4 linked regions of the Homo sapiens genome follow. The protein of the gene in region 1 interacts with the protein of each later gene in a pairwise test. Each region holds a gene or a part of one and is shown in the gene's direction. Other genes may lie near its edges.

What was found.
Region 2: the proteins of HSF2 (region 1) and PICK1 interact in binary tests that used the Homo sapiens proteins (3 or more experiments, as listed by UniProt).
Region 3: the proteins of HSF2 (region 1) and MTUS2 interact in binary tests that used the Homo sapiens proteins (3 or more experiments, as listed by UniProt).
Region 4: the proteins of HSF2 (region 1) and YWHAG interact in binary tests that used the Homo sapiens proteins (3 or more experiments, as listed by UniProt).

Annotation. Positions count from the first base shown.
Region 1 is NC_000006.12:122,394,080-122,402,651, forward strand, and holds the start of HSF2 (heat shock factor protein 2), read left to right. Parts: upstream 1-5,572; 5' UTR 5,573-5,658; coding exon 5,659-5,751; intron 5,752-8,572. UniProt on the Homo sapiens protein: DNA-binding protein that specifically binds heat shock promoter elements (HSE) and activates transcription. In higher eukaryotes, HSF is unable to bind to the HSE unless the cells are heat shocked.
Region 2 is NC_000022.11:38,066,879-38,074,499, forward strand, and holds part of PICK1 (PRKCA-binding protein), read left to right. Parts: intron 1-825; coding exon 826-892; intron 893-1,193; exon of another isoform or gene 1,194-1,270; coding exon of another isoform or gene 1,271-1,529; intron 1,530-2,154; coding exon 2,155-2,244; intron 2,245-3,959; coding exon 3,960-4,013; intron 4,014-4,803; coding exon 4,804-4,866; intron 4,867-5,598; coding exon 5,599-5,732; intron 5,733-6,121; coding exon 6,122-6,214; intron 6,215-6,894; coding exon 6,895-6,945; intron 6,946-7,428; coding exon 7,429-7,573; intron 7,574-7,621. UniProt on the Homo sapiens protein: Probable adapter protein that bind to and organize the subcellular localization of a variety of membrane proteins containing some PDZ recognition sequence.
Region 3 is NC_000013.11:28,816,186-28,823,959, forward strand, and holds the start of MTUS2 (microtubule-associated tumor suppressor candidate 2), read left to right. Parts: upstream 1-4,153; 5' UTR 4,154-4,426; intron 4,427-7,774. UniProt on the Homo sapiens protein: Binds microtubules. Together with MAPRE1 may target the microtubule depolymerase KIF2C to the plus-end of microtubules. May regulate the dynamics of microtubules at their growing distal tip.
Region 4 is NC_000007.14:76,327,699-76,335,319, reverse strand, and holds part of YWHAG (14-3-3 protein gamma), read left to right. Parts: intron 1-5,086; coding exon 5,087-5,743; 3' UTR 5,744-7,621. UniProt on the Homo sapiens protein: Adapter protein implicated in the regulation of a large spectrum of both general and specialized signaling pathways. Binds to a large number of partners, usually by recognition of a phosphoserine or phosphothreonine motif.

The DNA of each region.
Region 1 (8,572 bases):
AGGCCATTTCTCTATTCCACTCCATTTTTCTAATGTTTCCAGTCCTTGACGGTTTTTAGCCTTGAATTTTCTTTCTTATCAACATCTCTCTGTGTGTGTCTGAGCCTTCACGGGGACCTTGAGTTGCAGGGGTACATCAATTCCTTCTATTTATCAGCTAGCTGTTGGAGTGCCTGTGAAAGAGAGCCTCCGCACTGCTTCCAGAAAGGCCAAAGCTGCATTAGAGTTTCCAGATCCCGTATCTACATTGTCGCTATACAATATTTTGCTTTGCTTAAAGAGCCTCTGCTTCCTGTCCAACATAAATAACTGGAAGAGGCTGAGTTAGGGTGATCAAACAATCTGGTTTGCCTGGGGCTGAGGGATTTCCTGGGACATAGGACTTTCAGTATTAAAACTGGAAATGTATTGTGCTAACCTGAACTAGTTTGTCACCCTAGTTGGATGACTGATTGGATTCTAGCAAATCTGGCATAGATTGGAGTTTTAATGTAGAGCAGTTCCAGCCCGAGTCTGGTACAAGCAGTACTAACACATTTCCCATGTAAAAAGCTCCTCTGGCTAGTGTCTTTTGCACCCAGGTTGTAGCCTTAGAAGAAGAAAACTTCTTGAAAAATTTTAAAAATTAACTTTCACAGTCTTCTAGCTCTTCACTTACTCAAAAGCCTATTCAAGAGTCCTTAAGCATTTTGCCACTGTCATTTGTTTTGAAGATATAAGTGACCTCAAACCTGGGCCTCTATAGCATTCTGTTAACATCTGGCATTTCCAGGATTCTAATATTTGTTCAGTTACTAACAGCTCCTCATTCGCATGCTTCTCAGTTGAGCTATCCTTAAGCTCTTCTCTTCATTTTCTTCTCTTGTAAACAAAAAGGTTTCTACTGACTGAGAATAAATTGTAAGGGGTTTCCTTATTATTAGGTAGAGCACATTTTATCCAAAGGATTTCAAAAGCTAAAATTATTAATTCAACAAATATTTATTGAGCAGTTCCTACGTTATTATTAGCACTGTGTTGAGTGCTCAGGATACAAGAGTGAACAATGCAAGCACAATCTGCTAGTCTAGTAAGGGTTGTTGAGAAGTAAATGAGCAGCAATAGTGTGGTAAAAACTATGAAGGTCAAGTTCCAGAGCTATAGGAGCACATGGGAGGAACAACTAACCCAGATTTGGGGGTCATGCAAGAATAAACAGATGATTAGCACTTACCTGTTCATGTATTCATTTATTAATTCAACAAATATTTATTGATATTTTAACATATATCATGCATTGTGAATGTCATTGTAAATAAGTGAATGTACATATGACATAGTATTTATGTTGAAGCAGTTTCATAGTCTAGAATGAAAAATACATGTAAATAAATAATTATAATATGATGTAGTAAGTGCTATAATAAATGTTACCAAGGAAGATTTCACAAAAGAACTTATGTTTGTACGGGATTGTACTTGACCTGGAAGGTTGAAGAAGAATTTAGGGGAAAATGGTGAAGAAGGGCTCTGCAGGCAGAGACAACAGCCTATGGAAATACATAGAGGTATAAAAGAATATGACCAGTAAGGTAACTACAAGCAATTAGGTGTGGCTAAGGGAAAGGCGTTGTAAACAATGGTAGACAATAACTGAAATGGTAGGCGGCATCAGATCAGAGAAGGCCTTTTATGCCCCTTAAGGGGTTTGAATTTATTCTGGAAATTATGGGAAGTCACTGAATAGTTTTAAGTCAGGAAGTGACCTTTTCAGATTTGTGTTTTAGAAAGAGATCCATAAAGATTGTGAAAGTGGACTGGAGGAAGAGACAATTTCTTTGATCTTCAAAACCACCCTGTGAAGTGAGCATAGCAGATATTTTTCACTCACATCTTATATATAAGGAACGAGGACTAGAAAATGTTAGGTGATTTGCCTAAGGTCCCCTAAGTCATTCCAAAATTGAAGAAAATCAACACTTTGTCCAGATAGCAATATAGGTGGAAACCTCTATGCAGTTCACCTTTGGATTTAATCATCCTATCCTTGAAAAAAAAATCTTTAAAAGCTAATACTGGTTGCACCGTTGATTCCAATTAGTTTTGCAAAATCGATTGGATAGAATTTATGGCATCGTCTGATGATTTGAAGCATCAAATTGCTCCATAATATGCTTTTCTATTTCCTAGACAAAGGTCTGGATCATTCATATTTTTGAATGTTATTCTAAATCTAAGTCTTACATTCTAGGCTGCAAATGAACCATGAAAATAATCCAGCTTTTTAAACTGGAGTTAACAGGAGGCAACTCCTTTAAGAAAGTGACATTTTTATCTTCTTGTGTTATAAACATGTCAAAATTGTCGACACTGGCGCAAATCTGTTTCTTCTGATATTTTAGGGATATTATAGGTGGCAAATAATTGTGAGATAAAGCTTGATTTTGTTTTCTTCCCCTCTCAGTTTTATAAATAAGTGCAAACAAGCCAAGTTATAATTTCCTTTTCCCCAAAAAAAGTCTGCATTCAATACTTAGTTTTTCAGAAAATGTACTAATTATAATAAATATTAACGATTATAAGTTCATAGAAAAACAAAACATAGTCGTTTAAGTTATTCCTGGAACATCTGGATTTTATTAAGAGATGAAGGGTGGCCAGGTGCAGTTGCTCACACCTGTAATCTTATTACTTTGGGAGGCCAAGGTGGCAGATCACTTGAGCTCAGGAGTTCAAGACCAGCCTGGCCAACATCGTGAAACCCCATCTCTTCTAAGAATACAAAAATTAGTGAGGTTTCGTGGTGCAGACCTGTAATCCCAGCTACTCAGGAGGCTGAAGCAGAATTGCTTGAACCCGGGAGGCAGAGTTTGCAGTGAGCCAAGATCACACCACTGCACTCCAGCCTGCCAGCCTGGATGACAGAGTAAGTCTCTGTCAAAAAAAAAAAAAAAAAAAAAACAGACAGAAGTAAAGCATAACAATAAATCTGTACATCTTAGTAGTAAGGGAAGCTCAGTTTACTAATTTTTCCTCTATAACAGCAATTCTCAAAATGCGGTCCCAGGGCCAGTAGCATCTGCGTCATCTGGGACTTGTTAAAAATAAAAATTCTTAACCTGTACCCCAGACTTACTGAGAGCCATGGAAGCAAAAGCAGCAATTTGTTCTTTAAGAAGCTGTCCAGGTGATTCTGCGCTAAAGTTTGAGACACATTGGTGTAAATTTAAAAAGCATGTTTCAGACTACGAAAGACCTGGTTTCAATTCCAACCTTAACTAGATGATTTTGGATACATCATCTAAGTTTTCTGGTGCCAAGGTTTTCTTATCTGGTTAATAACTTATCCTTGTCACTGCCCTTATAAGTATTACAAATACTACCTGATAAGTGATATTGCTCATTTGCTTACTGGAAGGCTTCCCTCTCCAAGTGATTCAGACGCATGCTTAAGTTTGAGAACCATTTGTTTCAAACTTACGGTCTATAAGATGCCATACATTGGAAACAGAATCAGCTACACAATTTGCAAGATCCATTGCAAAATGAAAATGTACAGTCCCTTGTTCAAAAACTGAGAATTTCAAGAGGATGAGAACAGAGCATTAAACTAAGTATGGCACCCCACTAAGCCCAGCCCTATGAATGCCCAGCCTTTGAATGTCCAAAGACAAGTTTCTGCTTCTATCTAATCACACCTTCTTTTTTTAGAAGAAAATAATATAATGCCATGAAAGTAGGCCACATTTCCTCCTTAGACACTGCCATTCTTACCTCCTGAGCTGTTGCCCTCCATAGACAGACATGATCATTAGCTTCCTGGTTTTTGCTCATTCTGTTGTCTTCCTTTTAGCTATTCAAATATATTTGTACCTCAAGACCCAACTTAAGGTCCCTATCTGCCATGAAATCCTTCCTTACCACCTTAACCTACTAATCTGTCTTTTTAAACTTATCTAGTACTTATTTTATACAAAACATTTAGCTCTTTTTGTATATATTGAGTGCTGATCACTGTGGTCATATTGTTTCTTGAGTTTGAATATAAGCATCTTGAGCTTTGAAACAGTGTCATCATTGTACAATGGAAAGGGCACATACTTTTGAGCTCAATAAAGCTTGGGTGTAAATACTCTCCCATTTACTTGCTGTGACTGAAGAAATTAATCAACTTTTGAGTCTCAGAATCTTCTCTGGGAAAATGGGATAATAAAACCTAGTTCATTGGGTTGTTGTGAGGATTCAATAATATATGTAAAGCCCTTGGCATATATAAGGGCTCATCAAATATTACTTCCTCTATCACATGCATGCCTCCATATATCTGATTTTGCTTCAGCCAACATCCCAGTGCTGAGCACAAAGGCAGCATTCACTAAATACTTGCTCATTGGAAGAGATATACATATATCTTCCATTAAATGATAGATATATATTTAATGTACTATTTTACATTCACCCAAGAAGTAAACCAATCCTATGTTGAAGTTTTGTATGTTATCTCTGACTTGTTTGTAAGTTTTTGCCTTCACATGCTGACTTTTGTAAAAAAAAAAAGTCGAATTTTGTAGACTTCATATTTTCAAAGCATTTGCACAGCCATTATAGTATTAAAGACACTCTTAGTGGGTAAAAAGATAGATCTTATTCCCAGTCAAGAAATGGAAAAAACTGGCACTGGTGGCTAAGGAATTGTTCTAAATGACAGAACCAGTGTATTTTAATATACAGAAAAATGTCCAAGAGGCTTTATCTAAACTGAGATCTACTGACTCCTTTTCCATTGTTTTTTCCACTATACCAATCTCTTAGGCAAAAAAGACTATATCTGTAAAGTATACGCAGGAAAAACTATTTTAATTAACTAAAATAGTACAAATGAGTCTATTTCTTTTTATTCTGGGTACAGAGTAGGCACTTGATGACTGGATTAAAAACAGCACATGATATATCAATTGCAGTTCCTGGTTTACAGTTTTAAGTAATCGAGAGTGAGTTATTTAAACTGCTCTTTTTGATAAACATATTTTAAAGAGGGCTTTTTCTCCCAATGAAAATGTAAGAACAAGTTTCATTATTTTTAAGACAATTTCAATTTGGGGCCTAGCACATCATGCTTGAGAGCTGGTTTTTTCCTTATGCAAATGGATCCTTTCTCTAAACTGGTGCAAACCACACTTTGCCTGCCAAACTTATGACTCAAAGGCCCTGAAGGGTTTCTGTAGCCTCCCAGCCACAGCCCAGAAACCATAAGCTGTTTCCACGTGAAACATCCAAACACGGTCTCCCAAGCCTAAGTCTGCTACCATCAAGGCTTCTGTATAAAAGGCAAATGAGGAGGCAGCGCCCCCTTCTGCTCCCACCCCCTTCTGCTCCCACCCCCTTCATGTCAGCAGCAGCCAATCGCTTTTCTCTGTCGTGCAGTCGGCTCCTGGGATTGGCCAGGGACGGGACAGGCGCGGAACCACTGCGCGCACAGGCGGAGCGCGGAGACTTGTCCGTCACGTGCGGCCGCCCGGCCTCTCGGCCTTGCCGCGCGCCTGGCGGGGTTGGGGGGGCGGGGACCAAGATCTGCTGCGCCTGCGTTGTGGGCGTTCTCGGGGAGCTGCTGCCGTAGCTGCCGCCGCCGCTACCACCGCGTTCGGGTGTAGAATTTGGAATCCCTGCGCCGCGTTAACAATGAAGCAGAGTTCGAACGTGCCGGCTTTCCTCAGCAAGCTGTGGACGCTTGTGGAGGAAACCCACACTAACGAGTTCATCACCTGGAGCCAGGTACGGTCAGGCCACGGCGGCCTCTGAACCCCCTGAATAACCGCCTCCTCACTCGCTCTCCTGCGGGGTGGTCTCTCGCGGCCTTGCGGCTCGACGCTGTCTGCGAGGCCCGCGGTGCGGGGCCTTGGCGTTCAGCCTCGCGGGGGACCCCCTGTATTGTTCGCTCGGGGAGCCGCGGGGGCCCGGCCGGCAGCGCCGCTCTCCTCAGGCCGCGGTGGGGGAGGGGCGGCCCGCGCGGGGCGTAGCGGCCCAGGCAGCCCCTTAACGGTCCGGTCCGCGTTCGGAACCGGCCCGGCGTCGCGAGGGGAATCGGCGAGCCGAGGGCGCGGGAGCCTCTTTACTGCACACTCATCCTCCGTCCTCCCGCCCGGCTCAGGGGTTACAAATCGCGGAGGGGACAGGGAGCCCAGGGCCAGGATCATCAACGTGGGGCTTTATAGGAGGCGATCTTTACCTCAGCGACCGATCACCCCCAGTTCCCCCAACATTGCTTTGCATCTGGCATCTTTATGTGGAGAGCAGTCAGGGCAATAGACATACGTTCAAACGCAGGTTACTGCTTATCAGTTGGTTTTAAAAATATATAGAAATTAACAAATTATTCTTTTGAGATTCTGTGCTATTTGTATAATGGGATTATTAGGATTGTTTTAATAAAGTACTAATAGGTGGTAACTTAGTAGTTACTAAATTTCGCTGAACAGTTACCAGCAGAGGGGCATATCGATGTGTTGATTATTGGTTTGATCTCAACTCTGCTTCTAAACAAGCATGACCTTAGTCCAGCCCTTTATCTTGTCTGGCCTAAGTTAAATCTTTCATAAGATGGATGGGTTGCCTAGGTGACCCAAGACCTATATCAGTCCCAAATACAAGATTTTAGGCAGAATGATTATTTACATCCACAGTGCATGTGCATTAGAATACACTCCTAGGCTGTTGGAATCATTTTTATGAAGGAAAGTGGTTAACTCTTATTGTAGATGATCACCTATTGAGGCATATTTTCATATGTGTAGTTCTTGAGAAGAATAAGTGAAAACTACCTGCATAGTGCCTGGCACCTGTTAAGTGCTGAGTAAATGTTATCTCCCGTCCTCCTTTCTTTCCTGTTCTCCTATTATAGGAACTCTTAGTTTTATTTACTTTTGTCTTAACAGGGAGTGAGCACCATATTAAGACCCTGAAGTTTTGACTTCTGTAATACCATAGTTTGCCTTGTGTTATTATTTGTTCTTTTTTCCGACTTCCTTCTAGGATTTAATTTTTGTGTGTTCTTTATGAGCAACTGAGTTATCCTTTTAGCCCCACTCCCTGCTTGGAGTTGAGTAGGGGGGCGTGAGTGTTTCTATTAAGCATTTAATGAATTCTGTACAATTGTACAAAGCTAGGTGAAAATAAGAAAGCCAGCCACTAGCATGTACTTAAAATAAACACATGTCTCATGCTTTTCATCAGTTAGAAGGATTAAAAGTTGACAAGAAGGATCAGTACAGACTGTTACTCAGACACGTATTCGTGTTAGAGATTGGACTGAGATTCTCTCCCCACGAAAGCTGACTTTATCATACCTTTTTGTCTTTTATGGGCCAGAAATAGGGGCTATATATATTGGCAGTTGCTTTTAATCAGAGTATCATGTCAGTGGTAGGCCTATTAAATTCTGATTAGCAACAGTGTTTTAATAACATTCTTATTTTCTGAGTACTGTCAAATGTGGAGAGTTTCGTACTGATCCGTAAATGCATCATTCTATGAGTTCTAAGCCAAATAAACAAGCCACTTAACCATTTTTTAATCCCATTATTAACTTTAAGCTTATGTGTTAACCAATTTTCTAATATGCCAGTGGGACAATCAAAATGTAAGCTCAGTGAGATCACTGTGCCAGAGACACACTAGGTGTTTAATAATTGTTTGATGAATAAATGAGATCCCTCGAAAATGTAATGGAGTGGTAGGAATGATGAAGATAAAATTATATTTGAAATGACTCTTAGAGATCATCTAGGTTAGCCTTATCATTGTATAGATGAGGATTTGAGGCTTGGACAGGTGAGATTATTTATCCATAATTATACAGCTCGCCAAGATTGGAGATAAGACCCTAACATAAGCTTGTCCAACCCGAGGCTCACATGTGGCCAAGGATGGGTTTGAATGCGGCCCAGCACAAATTCATAAAGTTTCTTAAAGAAACATGAGATATTTTTGCAATTTTGCTTTTAAGCTCATCAGCTATCATTAGTGTTAGTGTATTTTATGTGTGGCCCAAGACAATTCTTCTTCCAGTGTGGCCCAGGAAAACCAAAAGATTGGACACCCCTACCCTAATAGATTTCTGAGCTCCCAGATCAGTCTTCCACCAATAGAACTAGACTTAATGCAAGTTGACATCATATTTAGTTTTATACCAAAATGTTGCTTGCCACAAGTCAATGGACAATTCTGAATAAATGTTGTCTAGGGCTAAGCCTAGTTGCTTAGGCAGCTGTCTCATTTGTGCTCTCCATGGATTTTTCTAAAAGCAGTGCTAATACTGAAAAGTAAAACTTTAACAATAATGTTAGGTGGAAAAACCAAAATAAGTTACTTTCATCTTTCTCTTTTCTTTGATGAATAAATGAAACCCTAGAAAATGTAATGAGAGTGGTAGGAATGATGATATAATAGTCCTCAACAGGCTTTGAATTTCCAAGTGGCAGAGACTATATCACACTATATCATATTCGTTTTTTTTTTTTGTGGTAGAGTATCACTCTGTCACCCTGGAGTACGGTGGCACGATCTCGGCTCACTGCAGCCTCTGCCTCCTGGGCTC
Region 2 (7,621 bases), on another chromosome or scaffold:
GTCGTTAGAAAGTGGTTTGTGTAATTCCCTGATTCGCATCAGCCTTGCGGGGCTGGGGCTGCCCCTGCCCCTCCCCTTGGTGCCCCAGCACCAGGCACAGAGCAAGTGCTCAGATGTGCTGTTCGATGAGTAGAGGGATTCCTGGGGATGGGGTGTTTTGGGGTGGAGGAGGGAATAATCAGTGTAGGGAAATGACACGGCAAAGGCTTGGAGTGTGGTTTGCGTGGGGAGGGAAGAAGGAGAGCCTGACCTGGCCGAAGCACAAGACATCAGAGACCGCCAGGCTGTGGGCCCGGTGCCGGCCCTGTCCCCACTGATTCCCCAGGGCTTGGATGTAGAGTAGGAAGGGAGGGGCCTGGGATCAGACAGGGTCACAAGGTGGGGCCATGTCACAGCGCTCAGCCTGGCCCTTACTGGGGCTTAGGATTCTTTTTTTTTTTTTTTTTTTTGAGACAGAATCTCATTCTGTCATCCAGGCTGGAGTGCAATGGTGTGATCTCAGCTCACTGCAACCTCCGCCTCCCAGGTTCAAGTGATTCTTTGCCTCAGCCTCCTGAGCAGCTGGGATTACAGGCACGCGCCACTACGCCCAGCTAATTTTTGTATTTTTAATAGAGATGGGGTTTTGCCATGTTGCCCAAGCTGGTCTCAAACTCCTGACCTCAAGTGATCTGCCTGCCTCAGCCTCCCAAATTGTTGGGATTACAGGTGTGAGCCACCGCACCCGGCCTTGGGCTCAGGAGTCTCAGTCCAGAACAGTCTTGGCTGGGAAGGGGCTCAGGGTGTGGAGCCTCGCTCACTAGTCTGTGTGTGCTGCTCTTCCAGGGGGAGGTGACCATCCACTACAACAAGCTGCAGGCGGACCCCAAGCAGGGCATGTCCCTGGACATTGGTAAGCTGGTCAGAGCAGTTACGGGTGTCCAGCAGCCTCCCTGGATGGGCCCTGGCCCAAAGGAGAAGTGCCACAGCCAGCCCTGCCCTCCCCTTTATGACAGGAGAATCCAGAGTTACATGGCTGTGGGCTCTGACCTCTGACCAAGCAAATCTGAAAGGCCTGGGAGGCCTCCCGGTGCTCTCCCTGCATCTGTTCTTGTACTCTGTCCCTGGTTTCTCACTCCCCCGCGTTTCACCCCTACCTCCCTGCTTCTGCCATCTCCTCTGGGGACTTGCTACCCTAGGGTTGTCCTTTGCAGGCCAGCGCCTCGGCTTCCATGGCCCAGGGCCTCACTCTTCATAAAGGGAGAGCAGCCTAACCCTGGCCTGGCGCCTCATGCCCTCTAGCACAGCGCACTCCTCCCTGGCCTCTCCTGCCATCAGCTCCCAGGGGGACTCTGGATCTGAACTGGACCTCAGGCATTGGGCAGAGGGTCTGCGCCCTGGGACAAGTTCCCTCCTGTTAGAGGGGCTGAGCCTCGGTTCTGTAGAAACTTTAAGACTCAAGAGCTGGACAGCAGCTTCGAGTCCTCTGGACCGGCCGCTTCACATTATGGATCAAAGCCTGAGACCCAGAGAGGGCGCTGCAGCCCCTGGTGAGCGCACACCTAGGTCTCAGCTCTGGAGCCCAGCAATCCCCTTCATACACCCTAGGGCCAGAGGCCAAGGGGCTAAGGGCAGGCTGGATCTATCTGGGAGCTCCCTCCGAAACCCTCTGGTTCCAACACAGGACTAAGTCCCCTTCCTAGGACTAAGCTGGTCAGATGCAGTAACTGAGTCTGGGGTCCGAGCTTCATGGTCATTGATGGTGCCCATTACTTTCACATAACCAGCCCAGGGGCCCCTCTTCTCCCCCTCCCCTTTATGTGACACCCTAGGTCCTGATGTGACACAGAGGAGGGGAAGAGGCCTCCTTGGCTTCCATTAGCCTGTGCTGAGCCCGGGCAGCACTGGGCTCTCAGCAACCAGCAGCTGATGTTGCGTAGCAGGCCCTGGGCGAAGCGCTTCATGTTTAACTGCCCAGGCTGCCAGCACCTCTGTGAAGCAGAGGGAATAGGGCAGGGGCCTAGGACCTCCCCACTGGACATTCCCCACTTCACAGCCACCCCCAGCAGCCCTTCTGCCCCCTGTGGGGTGCTCCCTGTGCATGGAGGTAAGGCTGGGGGCAGGGATGGCCTCTGGGCAGCCACAGACTCACCAGGTCCTTTGTCCCCCGCTCAGTGTTGAAGAAAGTCAAGCACCGGCTGGTGGAGAACATGAGTTCAGGGACCGCAGATGCTCTGGGCCTGAGCCGGGCCATCCTGTGCAATGGTGAGTCCCTTCCCACCCAGCTGGGGCCCCGGGGACTCAAGCCCAGGCTGAGAAGAGTGGGGGGCACCATGGCTGCCCACCAAGCTGCTGTGGGTCCCGCGGGTCTGACCCTGGCCTCTGCCCGTGGAACTGAGAAGTCACCATCTCTGTACCCCCAGAGGCCTCTCCAGCTCCCGGAGGGTCCACAGCTGTCAGCTGGGCTGTCTTAGCCAGTGCCCCTCAGGTCACAGATGGGAAAATAGACTTAGTGTGGGGAGGTGCCTCTGCCCCTGCCCTCAGCCCCTTACCCCTCACCCCAGCACTCTCGCGGCCCACCTCCTGCCTCCTTTGTCCAGGAGGTGGTGCTGCTGCCCTTGCCTCTGCAGGTCCTCCCTTCGTGGTGGCTGCGCAGGCGAGGGGGGAGGCGTGTACATGCACATTTACACACGCATGCACACATGCGCACACACTTTCCCTCCCTGGGGTGGCCAGCGAAACACTCAGTCCCCCTCCTACCGTCGCCAGTCCGAGTTTAAAAATAGCAGCAGCTCTGCAGTGTGCCTGTGGGGTAGATATAAATACTTCTAGAAATTGTAGGCTCAGCTGGGCACACTGGGCTTTATTGGCTAAGGAAGTGGGGGTGGGGACTGAGCTTGTTCCAAATGGTGTACAAAAGTGGCGGCTGCTATTTTCAGCCTCCTGGTGCCGTGCCTATAAATCCCTGTTACTGTAGTTACCAGCCGTTGAGATGAAATTAGAACTGGTTGTTGTGTTTTTCCCCCCAAACCTTGCAATTTCCCTGGCCTTAAATAGGGTTTCTAAAATTGAAGCTGTCATGATGTCCCATGACCCAGCTAAAAACAACAACACGATGCTTACATGGCTCCTTTCCTGCCGCTGGCCAGGTGCTAAGGCTCTGGGGAACCCAGGCCTGGAGGCCACCGGGTGGCCAAAGCCTCCCCAAGACCTCTGAATTGCTCCCTTCCTTCCCCGACAGCCTGTCGCACTGCCACCTCCCTGCCCAGAGAGGCCTGAACACAGCCTCCGCTCCTCCCCTCTTCTGCTAAAAAACCCTGACCCAGGTCAACACAGGAGGCTGGGGAGCAGAGAGCACCTGACTGCCCCACCTCTCCCCTGCAGCCCTCACCATCACACTGCTGTCCATCGCCCGGCCACTGGGCTGGCTTCTCTGCTGGGCTTTCAGCCTTGAGAGCAAGACTTGGCTCAAAGTGAGCCTGACATGGTGGCTGGCACACAGTGGGTGCTCAAGAAACACTAAGCCAATGACTGATCACCAAGGCCTCTTCCCAGTGTGAGCTCTCTCAGCCTTCCTGAATTTCCCCCTCCCTCCCCAAGTTGCGTTTTCCCTTCTGAGCCATCTGTGTGCTTGGGAGGCAGAGACCATGTCCTTCCTGCGCTAGAGGCCTGGCTGCTCCATCTCCATTCCTATGGCCCCTGCCAGCCTTCCTCCCCAGCTGTCAGCAGGCTTTGTGTTAGAAGTGTGGGAGCTTTGCCTGCTAGGCACGGACCCTCCGCTGGCCATGAGGAGGGCCTAGTCATTTACAAAACACCTTTGAACCCAGCTGACCCGAGCTGCCAAATCCCCCTCCCTGGGACCCCTGATCTTTCCCTTCCTGGTTCTCCTCTGGGGTTGCCTCTCCCCTCCCCAGCATGGCCCTGGGCCTCCTGTGGCTTGCTGAGCCCACTGACCTCCCCTCTTCTTTGAATCCCGACAGATGGGCTTGTCAAGAGGCTAGAGGAGCTGGAGCGGACCGCTGAGCTATACAAAGGTGGGTGGGGGGTGGCCTCGTCCTGGCACTAGCTCTACCCCAGGGAGCATGCTCTCAGCAGAGTGGCAACAGGGGTGCTGGCACTAGGAATGCCAGCCTACAAAATACTAGGACCATGGGCATTAAGAGTTCTTAAGAATATATACTTCTTCTGAATTTAAAAATAACTCAGGGGCCTGGTGCAGTGGCTCACGCCTGTAATCCCAGCACTTTGGGAGGCTGAGGTGGGCGGATCACTTAAGGTCAGGAGTTTGAGACCAGCCCGGCCAACATGGTGAAACGCCATCTCTACTGAAAATACAAAAATTAGCCAGGCATGATGGTGTGTGCCTATAATCAGTACTCGAGAGGCTGAGGCATGAGAATCGCTTGAACCAGGGAGGCAGAGGTTGCAGTGAGCCAAGATCACACCACCGCACTCTAGTCTGGGCAATAGAGCAAGACCCTATCTCAAAAAAAACAAAACCTGATACTCATAAAAATTCAGAGAATAGCACTTGTAAACATAGCGAGAGTCCCCCGGAATCCCACACTGTCCCAGGGCTAAAGCCCACAGCAGGCTGTGTACCCCTGCATCTTACAAAATGCTGGCGCCCCTGTCTGATGGGGCTCCTCACGGGTTGGGTCGGACTGAGCTTTTACCCCTGGGCTGTGGTTGGGCGGTGGGGAAAGGCCATGTATCAGGGCCTAGCAGAGGCCTTGGGTGGCATGGGCAATTGGAGGCCTTGCCCTGGGCCAGTGTGGTCCCCGCCATGCGTCCCCATTCCGCATCACTCGGTCTCTCCCACAGGGATGACGGAACACACCAAGAACCTCCTACGGGCCTTTTATGAGCTGTCGCAGACTCACCGGGGTAATGGCATCCCCCAAAGCTGTGGTGTGACCGTGGGCAATCCCTGGGGCCTCTCACTCCCATGCTGAGGTGGGTCAGACCCACAGCGCCTGACCTCAGGCTCCCTCTGGGCTGGGCCTGGTCCCAGGTGCTGGGATTTGCGATGGGCCTGCGGGGAACATCTAGATCAGCTGGTCTCTTAAGGGCCGCAACGATGAACAGGCCCCACCCTGTCTCCTCACACTGCCACTGGCAGTACACAAGGCCCTTGCTTATTTATATTTCTGACAACCTGTAACTCTGGGCAGGCCGACTGCAGCTGACCCCAGCTACTGCAGAAAATGAAGCCCAGACAAAGGAGAGGGCCACACTGCTCCCAAGTGGTGGAGCTGTTGTTCCAATCCAGGTGTCTAGACTCGGACCAGTGTTCTGCCTCAGGCGGCGCCACCTCCACAAACCTTGACCCAGTCTTCTCTCACTGGTCCCTCTGGGGAATGAGGGCCAACTCCCTTGGTGTGTACACTCAGGACTCTAGGGGGCACAGACCAGCTCTTGGAGGTGTCAATCCAGTTTCCTCCAGGTGTAGACTCAGCTCCTTCAGGGGGTTTAGACCAGCTCTCTTGGAGGTGTAGCCCCTGTGCAGACATTGGCTTCCAGCCTGCCAGGCCCCCTGCCCTGCTTCTCCCCAACAAACCCCTGGCTTCTCTTAGGGGGCCAAGTAGGGGCAGCCTTCAAGGCAAACTTGTCCTGCAGCCTTTGGGGACGTGTTCTCCGTGATCGGGGTGCGGGAGCCCCAGCCAGCTGCGAGCGAGGCTTTTGTGAAGTTCGCCGATGCCCACCGCAGCATCGAGAAGTTCGGCATTCGGCTTCTGAAAACCATCAAGCCGGTAGGTCCTATTGAGCATGTGTGTGTCTGGCGTGTGAGGGTGGGGAGGGGAGAGTGTGGCATGCAGAGAAGGTCGTATGCTGGAGTCCTGTGCCTGGGTACAGCCTCTGGCTCAGTCACCCACACAGTGGACTGTGGGTGAGTCACTGTGCCCCCTTGGGCCTTGCCATTGACCTCTGGGCTGGCTTCTGACCCTGGCTCGCCACTGAGTCACAGCTTGCCCTAGGCCTGGCACTAGTCTTCTCATCCTTGAGAGGGACAAGGCATCAGGGAGCACCATCTGGCTCTGATAGTCGAGTCCACCAACAAGGGTGACGCATCAGTGCCATTCATTGTCACCCTGGCACACCCCTGCCGTGACAGCCTCAGCATCCACCCACCCTCTTCCAGATGCTGACGGATCTGAACACGTACCTCAACAAAGCCATCCCGGACACTCGCCTCACCATCAAGAAGTACCTGGACGTGAAGTTTGAGTACCTGGTGAGTAGTCCAGGTGCCCAGGCTGCTAGGGCAAGCGCCCACCCTGGAGATCTGCCCCACTTCAGTCAGCCATGCTGCGGCCAGCGAGGCCAGCCAGAGCTGACAGCATGTCTGCTCCAGGTGTGGGCCCAGAGGCCCAGGGAGGTGCAGCCAAAGCCCTGCTGCGCCTGCACAAAGAAGCATCTGAGAGCCTGGGGCGGGCATGGCTCTCGCTGTGTGCACTCTGACCCCTTGGGATTTGTTGCCTTTAAACAATGGGTTAGACTAGGTGAGTGAGCATAAAATGGGTGTCAGTGAACGTTCGTGAGTTTTACATTTAATTATTCTACAGTCAAAGGAATTGAGAGAAAATGCTCTATTAAGCAAGCCAAGGTTCCTTTGCTGCAGGACTTATCAGAGCCTTTGCTAGGCTGATGTGCAGTGTGAATTTTCAAGGGTCTTCCTAAGCTCCTTTAACGACAGACCCCTTTTTCCCCAGAGCATCTCTTGGGCCTTGAGTTTGGTCAACTCGGCCGCCTAAGCCTCAGGCCCTGTCATCCCTCAGCACCTGCCGCTGCCCGCTCTGGGACTCCCTGAACACCTGCGCCAGCCTCTCCTGCTGCGTGTGGGTGATGGGGGTGGAGCTGGGGACCTGGGGTGGGGGTAGTAGCCACTCTGACAGCCTCACCTGTCCCACACAGTCGTACTGCCTGAAGGTGAAGGAGATGGATGACGAGGAATACAGCTGCATTGTGAGTGTTGGAGGGGGTGGGGGGCTTGTACTTCCCCCCACCTGGTCTGCCAGGGATAGCAGGTGGCTCAGGCCAACCCGGGAGAGACCGGGGGGACTTGGCTGGACTCTCGTTCCTGGAGATTTAGGGCCATCTTCCCAGTCCCGCTCGCTGGGCCTCGGGGTGCTGGGCACCCGGCCGGGAACCACTCCCTCAGTCTGGGGGACTCTTGGAGGGAAATCGGATTTTCTTCACTCCTATGAGGCGCTTTTAAGTGTTTGATTTTTCTGCTGTCGGGATCCATTTCGTGGCCAGTGTTCATTGAATGTGGCAGAGGTTTGGGTTTGGTTTTTTCCTCTCTTCAAAGCTATCACTGAGTGCTTCTGAGAAACACTGAAGTCTCAGAAATGAGGTCTCAGGAATGAAGAACAGCCGTGGCTTTGAAAGCACAGTGCGGTGCGAGGCCGTCCCTGAGCAGGCACTCCTGTCCCACCCCCGCCCCAGGCCCTAGGCGAGCCCCTTTACCGGGTGAGCACCGGCAACTATGAGTACCGCCTGATCCTGCGCTGCCGCCAGGAGGCGCGCGCCCGCTTCTCCCAGATGCGCAAGGATGTGCTGGAGAAGATGGAGCTGCTGGACCAGAAGCACGGTGAGCGCCGCCCTCCTCCCCGTCCGCTCTCCATTTCAGAGGTGGGAA
Region 3 (7,774 bases), on another chromosome or scaffold:
ACACTATGATACTTGCTGATCATATATATATATATATATATATATATATATATATATATATTTAATTCAAGAGAACATTCTACTCTTCCTTTCACAGCTTTTTTTTTTTTTAATTTAATTTGGCTGGGCGCGGTGGTTCATGCCTGTAATCCCAGTACTTTGGGAGGCTGAGGCGGGCGGATCACTTGGGGTCAGGAGTTCGAGAACAGCCTTGCCAACATGGTGAAAACCCATCTTAACTAAAAATACAAAAATTAGCCTGGATATGGTGGCATGCACCTGTAATCCCAGCTACTCGGGAGGCGGAGGCAGGATAATAACTTGAACCTGGAGGTGGAGGTTGTGGCGAGCTGAGATTGTGCCACTGCACTCCAGCCTGGGTGACAGAGTGAAACACCATCTCAAAAAAAATTAATTTTATTTTAGATTCAGGGGGTACATGTGCCTGTTTGTTACATGAGCATACTGGAGATTGGGCTTCTAGTGTACCCATTACCCAAACAGTGAACACTGTACCCCATAGGTAATTTTTCAGCTCTCGCCCCCTGCCCACCCTCCCCTCTTTTGGTGACCCAGTGTCTATTATTTCCATCTTTATGTCCATGTGTACTCATTGTTTAGCTCCCACTTATAAGTGAGAATGTGTGGTACTTGGTTTTCTGTTTCTGAATTACTTCACTTAGGATAATGGCCTCCAGCTCCAGCCCATGTCACTGCAAGAGACATGATTTCATTCTTTTTGATGGCTGCATAATATTCCATGATGCATTAATATATGGACCACATCTTCTTTATCCAGTCAACTGTTCATTGACATTCAGGTTGGCTCCATGATTTTGCCATTGTTCTTTTCACAGTTTCTAAATACAGCATAACCAACTGTTAAAATAAGACTTATCTTGGAATGCTGCCAGGTGGGCCAATAGATAACTATGACAGTTTGGGACCTCTGAAAAGCAGATGTCAAGATAGGATTAGATGTGCCAAAATATTTTAAAGAAAACACCTGTGCAGGATAGTGCAGGAGGGAGAAGGAGCCTGGCATGCAGGTGAGGAGTGCCTTCTGACTGCAATACAGGTCTGACACTTGTGAATGGAGAGAGGGAAGGGAAGAAGATTGGGTAGGAAGAGCTCCAGACTGCAGCACATTCTGAGAAAGCCCTGGTAGGGTGGTAGGAATTCCAGAGCAAAGACTGCCCACTAGAGGCAGAAAGGGCATAGCTCTAGCGCTCTCACCATGTTCCGTTGTGAGCTGGAAACAGCTGGGGAATGTGTGACCTTGGTATGAGCTCTGTGGTGGATCCAAATGTGTGACAGCTGAAGGCTGTCAGTTGCTCAAGCTTCCAAGATCTCAGGGGATCACCTCCCTCCATGCCACCACACAGATAGGTATCCCCACACATAAATCCATATAAATGGAGGTATTGGACCATCTTTGTAGGATTTGCTAAGTTGGGGTTCTGCCACCTTCAGACCAAATTGAAGGAAAGGAGAGAGCAATCAAGGGAGAAGATGAGAACGACACGGTGCTGACAGGGAGAAGGAGGACCCACCCACTTCATGCAAAGAAAGGCATGCTTCCAAAGAACTACTTGGAGAGCCTGGCATGTGTCACCTGGAGTGTGGGGACATGCATGAACCCAGAGATGGCTGAGAAGCTTCAAGGAAAGAGGCCGGTCAGAGTTACCTGTGACCAGAGAAGAAGAAAAGAGAACTGCAGTGACAGTGGCCTGCACTTCTATAGCGTGATGGGCCAAATGCCAGTTGGTGTCCGTGGGTCAGCACGCACGTGGTGGAAGGTAGCTGGGACTGACTGCCAGGGCATGGTGCCTTGCAGAGGGCCTGAATGAGGCTGACCACCAGTGAAGCTGAGGCTGAAGTTGCAGGGTCAGAACCCCACCCTGCCCAACTTGAGAAACCAGTGTTTTTTTTTTTTTTGAAACGGATCTCGCTCTGTCGCCAGGCTGGAGTGCAGTGGAGCGATCTCCGTGAACTGCAACCTCCACCTCCCGGGTTCAAGCGATTCTCCTGCCTCAGCCTCCGAGTAGAGGAGCCTAGAGGCATGTGGCACCATGTCCAGCTAAACTTTTTGTATTTTTCATAGAGACGGGGTTTCACCACGTTGGCCAGGATGGTCTCGATCTCTTGACCTCGTGATTCATCCACCTCGGCCTCCCAAAGTGCTGAGATTATAGGCGTGAGCCACCGCATCCGGCTTCTTTTTTTGACAGAGGCTTGCTCTGTCGCCCAGTTGGAGTGCAGTGGCATGATCTCGGCTCATTGCAACTTCCACCTCCCAGGTTCAAGCAATTCTCCTGAGGAGATGGAATTGCAGGTGCACGCCACCACACCCAGCTAATTTTTGTATTTTTAGTAGAGACAGGGTTTCACCATGTTGGCCAGGCTGGTCTCGAACTCCTGACCTCAAGTAATCCACCGGCCTCAGCCTCCCAAAGTGCTGGGATTACAAGCGTGAGCCTCCGTGCCCGGCGGTGGAACCCGTCTTCACAGAGCTAGCTGGGGAGAACACAGAAGCAGGAAGCGAAGGTCGTTTTCCTCCTCCTTGCAGGCTTCTGAGCTTGGGTCAGGTTGGGGTCTGGTGGGTGGTGGGAGGCTAGTGGGGAAGGCTTGAATGGATTGCGATTAAAGTTTTGATTTGGATTGGGCTGGACTTTTTATTATCAGCAAATCTGACTGTTTATGAACACCTGAAAGTGACAGGAAAAGCTATGAAATTTGCCCCAGATTCTTCCAGGGGAGAAGGGAGAGCTTCTGGAATAATTTTTAAAGACAGTGGTCTGAAAAAAAAAAGTGCCATTTCATGATTTCCCTTCACCAAGTAGTCCAGTTGGTTAAAAAAAAAAATTAACTGTCATAAAGTATTGGTTAACACAGTGGTTTGGAAAGACATCCCCTAAAAACAAAAAACGCCAACCTAAATAGTGCAAAGACCAGCAACATCGTTTCATCTTTATAATGGTAAATGTTTATTCCATTGCTGTTTGAATCAGTCTGCAGAAGTCCTCTGGTTTCGCTTGCCTTTTCAAACCTCCAGGTGCACCGCGTGAGGGAGTCTGAGCATTTCAGGTAGGACTGGAAAAAGGTCTTTGAGAAATCATTAATTAATCTATTTACCTTACCATAAGAGCAGTCAAGGCTCGCTGGAACCCCTCGGACAGTGGGGAGGCACATTTGGTGCTCATTAAACATAGAAATAAGCTTGCTTCTAGAAAGAAACGCCTGCCTTTTGCGCAAATCTTTTCAGAGACTGGCTTTGGGCTCCTATGAATCAGGCACCCTAGCGTCCTCCAAAGTTCTTCCCGATGCTGAACCCCAATGCCTCCTGCTGCGCCTAATTCGAAGCGGCTCCCTCTTCTGTTCTGAGCGGAAAACAGCGGAACCCATTCCTGGAGGCCTGCCCTGGAACGGCCAACTCATTCTTACTCCTTTCTCCTGGGGTCCGATGCTAGGGCACCACGGTGACCAGCCGCGCAGCGGGCAGCGGCCCGCGCCGCGCCCACCGCCTGCGGAGGCTGGGTCTGGGTCTGGGTCTGGGGCTGGAGCTGGGGCTGGGGCTGAGGCGGGAGCTGGGGCGGGGGCGGGGGCTGGGGCTGGGGCTGGGGCTGGGGCTGGGGCTGGGGCTGGGGCGGGCAGGCGCGCGCGCAGGAGCGGGCGCAGGGGCCGTCGGCAGAGGGCGCTACGGCTCCCGGCTGCGGAGCTGCGACGCGGGGCGCGGGGCGCGGAGCGCGGGCCGGGAGGAGGCGCCTGGGTCTCGGCGAGTGCGTCTCCGGGCGGCCGGGAGGGGGTGCGCGCATCAGCTGCCCCGCGCCGCCTACCGCTCGGGCCCGCTCGCCGCCCGGCCACTGTCACCGCGGACGGCACCTCGCGGGCGAGGCGCGCCGGCTGCGTGGCGCGCTGCGAAGGTTGGGCTGGGCGGCCGCCGGCCCCGCGGCTTCTCTTTGTCCAGGCGAGGCGGCTGGAGGAGCAGCCGCGGCCGCGGCGGAGCCGGGAGCGCCTGGGCGTCGTGCGGGCGGCTCCGGTCCCCGGCTGCGCCCCGGCCCTCGAGCGGGGGCGGCGGCCTGGGCGGTGCCTGCGCCGAGGTGAGTGCGGGGGCGCGGAGCGGAGCGCAGCCGCGGCGCGGGCGTGGGCGGGCAGAGGTGATAGCGAGCGCCGGCGGCTCCAGGTGCGGGGGCGCCCCTCGCGCTCCACCTGCGCCGCCGCCGCCGGCTCTCAGGGCAAGTTTATCTCCCCCCTTCTGCGGAAACCCTTGACCGCTTAGCGGAGTACAGACCTGTCGGTAAATAGAAAACTCGAGCTGGAGAGGAGGAGGAAGCAGCGTGGCGGAACCCGGCCCGAGATGAGCGTCTCCGTGAGGGCAGTGGTGGCCTCTTGGACATTACATCTTTCTTGGCTCTTTTTGACCCAGGTGAGCGAATCCTCTGCTGCGCGGTCCGGTGGGGTCGGCTGGCTCTGCTGCCGCCCTCTGGACCCGCCGGAGACAGGTGAGCGGAGTTGGGGAGCGCGCAGCCGGGCTCGGGGCAGCGCCGGGCTGGTTCGGCTTCTCGTCTCCAGAGCGCTGATGCTTCCTGCCCACATCACCTGCTCTGGCTTAGGGACTGCAGCTCTTTTGGCACCTTCGCTTGCTGCCAGGTTCAACACCCACTGCTTTAGAGGCGTTGGTAGGTTAGTTAAGGCGAGTTCTCCCCTACCCACCCCCAGCTTTGGATAATTTGGTCTGAGTCTTCGTCTTAATTTAGTATGAGTGTGTTATTTCCTTCAAGCTTTATAATGGTAAAGCAGTGAAGCGGCTTGCTACATCCATTTTTTTTTTTCATTCTGTGCCTGTGCACAGAAGGAATTACAGGCACACAAGTGATGTTACTACCATTCTATTTTAAATACAAACACGGAAAGAAGTACTCTTGGCAGGATACCAAAGGCGCCTGTACTCTCTGTTATATAAATGCTTAAAAAAATTTGCTCATTGGTAAAGTTATGTGTGATTACCAGAGCACCTAAGAAGAGAGTGTCATGCTTTTAGTTTACTTGGAGATAAGCAGTGGTCTTAGCTTGAGGTACCCTTTTAAGATAATATAGGACCCTATATTAAAAAAGTCATTAGGTATAATTGTAAAGCATTAAAAAATTGGTTTTGTAAAGTCTATTAGGAATTGGTGAGAATTCTTTGACTACTTATTGATAAAAAGATCCTACATGTATACTTTCTAGTTTTCAAACTATTGAATGATTTTATTTTTATCTCTGATGGAAACTTAGTAATTGTGAGTTGCCAGTTATTAAAGATGTGTCTCTCTTTCCCTTCCCTTTCCCCAGGCCCCAAAACCAGTACTCACATTTATGGCTATTTTTTTCAGGTAAAAATACAAAAGTAGAAAACATCAGATATACTGATGGCTGGGAACAGCCCTTGTCCCTCCTCCACCCAGTATTCTGTTCTAATTGGTCTGGGCTGATACCTTGATACCTGTAATGTTAAAAAGCTTTCCTGGTGATTCTAACGTGTAGCCAGGGGTGAGACCCATTGTGGAGCATTGTATTGTCACTTTCTGTAGCCTATGGTGTTGCTACAGTGGTTTAAGGTAAGTCAAAAATACGTTGTTAGAAACATGGGAAGAAAAAAATGGTATTGGAAAGGGGACACATCAGAGAATTACAGCATGTAGACTTTTGTGTTTTGTCTAAATGCTCTTTCTTGATTTTCCTGCGAAGAGTAGTTGATGTTTATTAGGGACCCATAATTCCATGTAGAATACTTACGGGAATCTTAAGTGATATATTTCATTTGCAGAAGTACCAATGAAAGTTGAGTAGTAGTGGCAGGATATTCATTTATGTTTACACGGTAAAGTAAGTCATAGGAAAGATTATTTTCCATATCAAATTAAAAACTTTTACTATAAACTAGTAAATTAAGTGCAAAAAGTTTTTATTGTTTTTAAGGTCAGAAAGAAACCTGGCCTCTGAGTCAGTGTTTTCTGTCTCCCTTATGTAATCCCAAATATCCAAATCTAGGAGCAGATCTTATGGATGGTTTATGAAGGCTTATGTAAGAGCTATGACTGTGCTTTTGGTACTCCATTAAACTCCCTGTTTGGGCTATTACATAATTGACACGGAACTAGACTGTTAAAGCCAAAATCCAGGAGGATGCCGAAACCCACTCCGGCATACGCACTTTTATAATGAATTGCTGTTGCCAAATTGGAGGGAACAGCAGGGATGGTGGTTTGTGAAAGAGAGGTAAGAATAGCATCTGGGGGATTGATGTAATAGAAGACTGTTATGCTTAGCGATTTTCTAGAGATTTGAATGCTGTGGCAGAAACCTCTCTAGTCCTTTCTATCTCCAGCAGAGGCAGATCGACTGGGGAGCTAATGAACCTAAGCCTCAGGTCCCTCCGTCACAGAGGCTTCTTTGGAGCCCTCTGGGAGGGGCACTGGCAGTGTGTTCATGTGGTCATCCCTGAGTTTGTATTTGTACTTTTGGATTTTTTTTTTAAATAAGGAGAGTACTCTTTCTATATTCCCACCCCCCAATTATATAAACCCAAGGTTCCACAGACCCTGAATCTATCCCTGTCTTCAAACCTGTGTTCAAGTATTAACTTATAAAATTGCCTATTCTTAGTTTAATTTTTGTCATCTGAAAAGATGAAAAAAATCTGTACAATATCATAGTTGACTTGCTGAGAAAATGCAAACTGCTATAACCTAGGGCTGTATAGAGCCACTGAAATCAGGCACATACCTGGAGAACTAGCTCTTTGCCTCGTGATCGCACACACATGGGATTGTTTTGGATCAGTGTGTGAGCTGGAGGTGGAGAAGAGTGGAAACGGGTTGGGGAAGGGAGGAAAGTGGGTTAAAGCTCTTCCTCCTCTCAGAGGCAGGATGCCAAGGGGAAAGGAAGGAAAACTATTGAAAGATGCTTCATTAATAAAATGTTAATAGGAACAGATAGCATCAGCTCCATAGGAGATCCTTCTGTAAGCTCAGGATTGGTCTCTAATACGAATTTTCAACAGTAAGCAAACAAACTCATTCCTCGAAAATATCCTACAGGAAACAAATGCAGGTTTGGAAGGACTAGATGAGTATCTGCTTGTTCCCATTAGCAGTTTTTATGAGCAAGTGGGAGGCTTATAATATCTACCACACACATGTTTGAAACGAGTTGTTGAAAAGAGTCAAGGAGTTTCCCCTTTTCTCTGAAATGATTTCTACTTCCTATGTGAATTTGGATGCCTTTAGATCTTATCATCTTGACCCTTCCCACCAACGGGTATACCTTGTCTATCAATTACCCATCCATCAGTCATCTATCTACCATCCACCCACCCATCCACAGAGACTCTCTTTTTGACCAAACTTTAGTCAGGCTCCCCTGAGCCCTCTTCTCAACTGGGCCTCAACCTTGGCCCGTAAGAACTGCAGCTTTCAACACAAACAATTTTGTCTGTGCTCCCACCCTCCAACGGATTTGAAAACACTGTAGCATGGTGTATTAGCCTGTTCTCACCTTGCTGATAAAGACATACCCAAGACTGGGTAATATATAAAGGAAAGAGGTTTAATTGACTCATATAGTTCAGCATGGCTGGGGAGGCCTCAGGAAACATAGAATCACGGTGGAAGGGGAAGCAAACACGTCCTTCTTCACATGGCAGCAGGAGAGAAAAATGAGCAAAAGGGGGAAAAACACCGTATAAAACCAGCAGATTTCATGAGAACTTACTGTCGCGAGAACAACATGA
Region 4 (7,621 bases), on another chromosome or scaffold:
CTTTGGGAGGCCGAGGCGGGCGGATCACAAGGTCAGGAGATCAAGACCATCCTGGCCAACATGATGAAACCCCGTCTCTATTAAAAGTACAAAAATTAGCTGGGCGTAGTGGCACACGCCTGTAATCCCAGGTACTCGGGAGGCTGAGGCAGGAGAATCGCTTGAACCCAGGAGGCAGAGGTTGCAGTGAGCCGGGATTGTGCCACTGCACTCCAGCCTGGTGACAGAGTGGGACTCCATCTCAAAAAAAATAAATAAAATAAAAATAAGAAATTTGAACTTGAGCTTGTAGTAGTAGAGAAGGCAGAAACTTTGTTTTTAAGCAGAACATACAACTCTGGGGAATAAAAACTGAAACTTTCTACATTTTCCAACAGCCATGACAGTAAATTTTGGGGACCATGTTTACAAGTGTTGCATTCGTAGAAACAATTTATTAACCAGGGTGTGATGGGAGGCTGAGGTGGGAGGATCACCTGAGCCTGAGAAGTTGAGGCTGCAGTGAGCTGTGATCACGCCATTTCTCTCCAGCCTGGGCAACAGAGTGAGACCCCATTTCTTTTCTTTTCTTTCTTTCTTTCTTTTTTTTTTTAAAGAAGAAGAAGGTTAGGCAGAATGGCTCATGTTTGTAATCCCAGAACTTTAGGAGGCCAAGGCTGGAGGATCACTTGTGCTCAGGAGTTCGAAACCAGCCTGGACAACATAGGGTGACCCTGGTCCCTACAAAAAATACAAAAATTAGGGGGCGTGGTGGTAGATGCCTGTAGTCCCAGCTTCTCTGGAGGCTGAGGCAGAGGAGTTTGTGGCGTGGCTGCAGTGAGCTGTGATTGCACCACTGTACTCCAGCCAGGGCAACAGAGTGAGACCCTGTCTCTGTTTAAACAACAACAACAAATTTAATGACTGTTTTGAAAAATGTTACCTCCCTTCCCAAATGATACAAGATCCCGTATCTTCCCACATTGAATAGTCATTCTGTCATTCTGTCTTGATTAAATCATTTTAGACACTATTAGAATAACTTGTTCTTTTAAGAGGTTATCTGTTGACCTTTAAAACTAATATGGTGGGGATCTCTTATTTTAATTTAAAAATAACAGATTCTTATGCAAGTAATTATGATCTAAAGGATAAAGGATTTTTAAAAATTTTGATTTAAGGTGTTCAGAACAACTTTTCTTTAGACTTTTTAGAGCTGAAGGGTTTCCCCTCTAACTTAGTTTTTCACTGGCAGGGAACATCTGGGCGTGTTCCAAATGTGGTCGAGCTACTGTATCCAAAGGTGATCCTGGCATTTCATAATCTCCTTGTTCCAATGTGTCTGGGGACAGCTAGGCAGACTTTACATAAGTACAGATTGCCTCTCTGGGCACTGCTGGGAGACTTCATTTGTGGCAGGAGGAGTGCCCCCAGGACTGGTGAGATAATTTGAGCTTTAAATAGCTCCTGGCCCTTGAAATAAGGACAACATGATTTAGGGGAAAGGCCAGAACTTGATCTTTGTGGCCTTCGGCACGCTGGCCTCTCCTTGCACTGGAGGCAGTCATGAGGGCTGCACCGCGGGGCGGTTTGTCTTCAGCATTCGCACACTCAGTAAAGTATGCCAGAGATGGGTGGCAGCAGCGCCCAAGGGCTCAGCTCCTTCCAAAGCCAAGTCTGGGCAGTTTTTTTTCAGGCTGTATGGAACTAGGGTTTATGGAAAGGAAGCGATGTGAGGCAGCTAAGGCAGTTTCCGCTTAATATAGAGAAGAGGATGAAACGGAGAAGAGACACTCGATACAGGAAGATGAGCTGGGAGATCGTTAGGAAATGTAGACATCCCCTGTGGTGAGAACTAAAATGAAGGAAAATTATTCAGGGTATTCTTAAAAGTAGTTCCTCATGTTTCTGTAGCATTTTACTTTTTCAAGAAGACTTTGCTGGGCACAATGGCTGTCACCTGTAATCCCAGCACTCTGAGCGGCCAAGGTGGGAGGATCACTTGAACTAAGGGTTCAAGACCAGCCTGGGCAACATAGTGAGACCTTGTCTCTACTAAAAATTTTTAAATGGCTGGATGCAGTGGCTCACACCTGTAATCCTAACACTTTGGGAGGCTAAGGTGGGTGGATCACTTGAGGCCAGGAGTTCAAGGCCAGCCTGGGCAACATGGCAAGACCTTGTCTCTACAGAAAAATACAAAAATTAGCTGGGTGTGGTGGCATGTGCCTTAGTCCCAGCCACTCAGGAGGCTAAGGTAGGATTGCTTGAAGCCCTGGGAGGCTGAGGTTGCAGTGAGCCAAGATAGTGCCACTGCACTTCCAGCGGATTGATATAGTGAGACCCCATCTCTAAATAAAGAAATAAATAAATCAGCCATAGACTGAGGCGGGTGGATCACTTGAGGCCAGGAGTTTGAGACCATCCTGGCCAACATGGCAAAACGCTGTCTCTACTAAAAATACAAAAACTAGCCAGGCATGGTGGCACACGCCTGTAATCCCAGCTACTCGGGAGGCTGAGGCAGGAGAATCGCTTGAACTTGGGGGGAGGTTGCAGTGAGCCGACATCATGCCATTGCACTCCAGCCTGGGCAACAGAGTGAGACCAGGTCTTTTTGAAACTCTGTCTCCAAAAAAAAAAAAAAAAGAAATCAGCCATGCATGGTGGTGCACACCTGTAGTCCCAGGTACTCTGGAGATTGAGGTGGGAGGATTGCTTGAGCCCAGTAGTTTGAGGCTGCAGTGAGGTGTGATCATGCCTCTGCACTTCAGCTTGGGAAACAGAGTAAGACCATGTCTCAAAAAGAACAAAAAAAGACTTTCTTATTTGTCTGATATACCTGTATATTACCTTATGAAAGAAGCAGAAATCCCCATTTTGCAGATAAGAAAACCAAAGCCCAGAGAAATGAAGCGGCTTGTCCCCAAGATTGCTTAGCGAATGATGGAGCTGGGAAAAGCCCAATCTTCCGTTATTTGTGGACACATCAGAATTCAGCATGAGTGACAGCGGTCTGCTGGATGACAGATCGTCAGTGCAGAATGAGACACGAGGTGCCTGTGTTTATTCATGCAGGAGGAGTGTTTGCAGAAGTGCCGGGAACAAGAGGTGGTGGAGCAAAGCATCTCTTTCCTGGTTTCCTTCTGCTCTGAACTCAAGTAGTACCCACCCCCTATTCTTCCCCTCTTTTGAGTCTGTTTCACTGAGGGCACGGCTGGTAGGAGTAACGTTGTCCAGCATTAAAACAGAGCATCAGTAATGTCTAGGAAAATGTTAACTTTAACAACACCACTAATCAGTTTAGAGAATATTTGAGCGTGTAGCACTTGCTGATCATTCATTCAGAAAATGAATTGCCTGCCATAAACTAATAAGCATGATTTGGTTTATGTTTTGATTTAATTATCTCTGAGTAGATGCTGCTTGAAGTAATGACTGTAATCACTTTTGCCAAGCATACCCCCCGTTTATAATTTAAGAAAAAAAATTTTTTTTTTTTTGAGATGGGGCCTTGTTATGTTGGCCAGGCTGGTCTTGAACTCCTGGCCTCAAGCAGTCCTCCCCACCTGGTGTCTCAAAGCACTGGGATTACAGGCATGGGCCAACATACTGAACATAATGATTCAAACATAGAAAAAAAAGTCTCCTGGTAGTTCAGTTCCCCCATGCCCCAGGAGTTTAGTACAGGGGTGTCCAGTCTTTTGGCTTCCCTGGGCCACATTCCCTTGGGCCACACATAAAATACACTAACACTAACAATAGTTGATGAGCTAAAAAAAAAAAAAAAATCGCAAAAAGAATTCTCAGTGTTTTAATAGAGTTTACGAATTTGTGTTGGGCTGCATTCAAAGCCATCCTGGGCTACATGCAGCCTGTGGGCCACAGGTTGGATAAGCTTGGTTTAGTAGATCTTTTTGGATTCTAGGTCCCTACCTGTCGTCTCTGTATGTAATATAATGTTATACAGATGCTGCAGTTGATCAACACGGAACAATGGGGACTCAAGGGACAGGGAGTAACCACTTTTCTTCTCTCCTCTCCTCTCCTCTCCCCATCCCCAGCCAGTTGGCATGTGCTGGTAGTCCCAGCTCCTCGGTAGGCAGAGGTGGGAGAATCATCTGAGCCTGGGGAGGTTGAGGCTGCAGTGATCTGTGATCCTGCTGCTGCACTCCAGGCTGGGCAATAGAATGAGACCCTGTGTCAAATATAATAATAATAATAATGTATTTCATATGGTTGTCAAGTAATGTAATAGTATATGACTCTGATACTATAGAAACCAGGTAAATAAATTTAGTATTATTGGCTGATATTAATAAGCAGTTATTTGTAGTCATAAAAATATACAACATTGGTTTGAGATGCCACTTTAGTCTTCTGAAAGTGATTAGCCTTGGGGGTGATGAGGGCGGGAGCCTTGAGAAATGGCCATCTTGGGAGAAGCATTGATTCCTGTTGCCCAGCTAGAGGCGCTGTGCTCGCCTCGTTCTTTTGTATTGCTGGTTGTAAAGTTGTATTCAGTCAGACACTCCCACTGCCACAAATAACATGTTCCCTGGGTTGCTAAAGTATCACAGCGATCAGACTCAATCCTATGCCCCTTATTTGGACTCCCTGAGGTTTAGAATTCACATGGTGTTGGCATATGAGCAGAAAGGCCTCCATGTTTCTCAGAAGTCAGCTTGAAGTTGACTCAGTATTTTCTTATCCAGAAGAGATGGGACTGAAGTTTAGTAGACAGGGCAGGATTAGGAGGAATTTGTCAGTCCGTTTTCCTAAAAAACCACTGAGTTAGACCATCTGTACTCATAGTCTCTCATCTAAGGCCTAGACTTGACAGTGTTTTGTGGAACACACGTGATAAGCCTGTGTCCTTTTCTGGGGAGGAAGCCAGGGTTCAGACACCGTTGATCCATTGATCCAGCCGCACTTTTCCCTCCCTTGTGTGTGCTCCACCTCCAGCCCCCTTCCCCCAGCCCACACAAAGTAATTTCCTTCTGTTCATCATGTTACTCAACAGAGCTCTGTTCTAGTGTCTCAAAGATACAGTTAACCCAGTGGACACCATCTGTACCATAACAACTCTGTTCTTTCCTCCTGGCAGGTGACAGAGCTGAATGAGCCACTGTCGAATGAGGAACGAAACCTTCTGTCTGTGGCCTACAAGAACGTTGTGGGGGCACGCCGCTCTTCCTGGAGGGTCATCAGTAGCATTGAGCAGAAGACATCTGCAGACGGCAATGAGAAGAAGATTGAGATGGTCCGTGCGTACCGGGAGAAGATAGAGAAGGAGTTGGAGGCTGTGTGCCAGGATGTGCTGAGCCTGCTGGATAACTACCTGATCAAGAATTGCAGCGAGACCCAGTACGAGAGCAAAGTGTTCTACCTGAAGATGAAAGGGGACTACTACCGCTACCTGGCTGAAGTGGCCACCGGAGAGAAAAGGGCGACGGTGGTGGAGTCCTCCGAGAAGGCCTACAGCGAAGCCCACGAGATCAGCAAAGAGCACATGCAGCCCACCCACCCCATCCGATTAGGCCTGGCTCTTAACTACTCCGTCTTCTACTATGAGATCCAGAACGCCCCAGAGCAAGCGTGCCACTTGGCCAAGACCGCGTTCGACGACGCCATCGCCGAGCTTGACACCCTCAACGAGGACTCCTACAAGGACTCCACGCTCATCATGCAGCTCCTCCGCGACAACCTCACGCTCTGGACGAGCGACCAGCAGGACGACGATGGCGGCGAAGGCAACAATTAAGGCCCCAGGGGAACTGGCAGCGCACGCGGATGCTACTACTGCAGTCTTTATTTTTTTCCCATGAGTTGGGGGTCGGGTGGGGGAGGGAAAGGGAGGGATGACCTTCCCAGGGAGAAACCCACGACCTGTCCTGTCTTTGATCGCCTCTTTGACATTTTTGCCAAAATACCACTAGTGGAAAGTCAGGCTAGCTGTGCTGGTATTGGAATAGCAGCCTCACACTGGCGTCTGGACTGTTCTGTAGATTCATGCAAGTGGAGCTGTCTGTCTCTAATTTAACTTATTGCTAGATAATAGGGTTTTCAGATGAAAAGAAAACTTAAAGAGGAATGGCCCTCATTCAGTAAGTTCTGTGGTTCCAGTAAGGATTTTTATGTACATACGCTCTCGTCTCTCGTTTTGGGTACTTTCTATCTCATCTGTCTCGGCTCTGCATGTTTTCCAGGGTGTAGCCTACAGACATGGAACAGTGTAAATCCCAGACTGACAGACTTAGAACCTGAGGTCTCATTCATCCTTATGGTTTAGGCCTTGCCAGTTTTCCGAAGTCTCTGATTAGTTGACAGTATTAACACTAAATTGCAGTTTACAGTATTTCTACATTACAGCCATATGTAACATCAAGCCATCGATTGTGTACTTTTCCTTTGCTAGTTGTTTGGGCTTTAACATCCTTATTCAGCCTTATCCAGGTTGGTTTTGCTGTTGATCGGTCTCCTAGGCTAAATGAGAATGAAAGCGACTTCAGGTCAGGTGGCTGTGGGATTTTTTTTTTTTGGTCCTTCTTTCCTCTTAACGTAAATCCACCACCAAAATTATTAATCCTCTTGAGAGAAACGTGAAACGCCACAAAAATAGAGAAAATTCAGGTCTGTATGTCATGGATCGTGTTGGTATTTTCAGAGAACATCCCGCTTCTGAAGCTGCTGCAGCTCCCTCCTCAGGGATCACACTGCCGTCACCCACTCTGCACTGGGGCGTTTCCTACTGCGCCTCGTGCTGGCGGACGCAGCTGGGTGCAGAAGCTGTGGGGTCGGAGAGGCGTTTGGAGAAGGTCTGTGGTGCAGTGTGTGAAAATTCAGGTGCTAGAAGCCTACTGGTAGAAAAACCCAAAAGGAAGAGCTATATCCTTAACCATTCTGTCCAATTTCGGGAGCCTTGTCAGTGTGTCAGTTTTTCCTCCCCGAAGACACTCCTTCCCCAAGTAATTGTAGGAAGATAAAAAAACTGTTACCAGATAACAAACACTGAACTCCTATTTGACCAGAACTTTTTCCTCTCGAGATAGTTTTTTCTTTTTAATGAAAAAAGCATAGGAATTGGAGATTGGCTTGTCTCACGCAGCCAGTGCACATTTGGAATTGACGGAAACAACGTTGCTATTTCCACCCATTTGTTTTCGGCAGCCTTAAGGCCCTCATTCTCATTTCGGGTGAATCTGTCTATCTGTGAACGTGGCCCGCATGTGCATTCTTTTTTTTATATATATAAAGTCAGTGACGAGGAACTCCCGAGACGTGTAATGACACCACACTTGTTTTCTTTGTTTCTTTGTTTTATTTAGGCAAGAAGAGGTGTGAGTAATTGAGGAAAAACTGACAGATGCTTTTGCTAATACCAAAATTGAGCTTACAATTAGGAACTGAGTATGTGTAACAGGATACAGGTGACAGTGAAGATAGAAGAACCACGATGACCACAGACTCAATGTGCTCTGTAACATCGCACAGTTTACCCAGCATGACTTTCCTTAGGAGGCCCCCTCCTCACGCTAGAGTAAAAGTCCCAGTTAAGTGAAGCCTACCAGAAGAACTAGTAGAAGAAGCTTTGCCGCTTTTGTGCCTCTCACAGGCGCCTAAAGTCATTGCCATGGGAGGA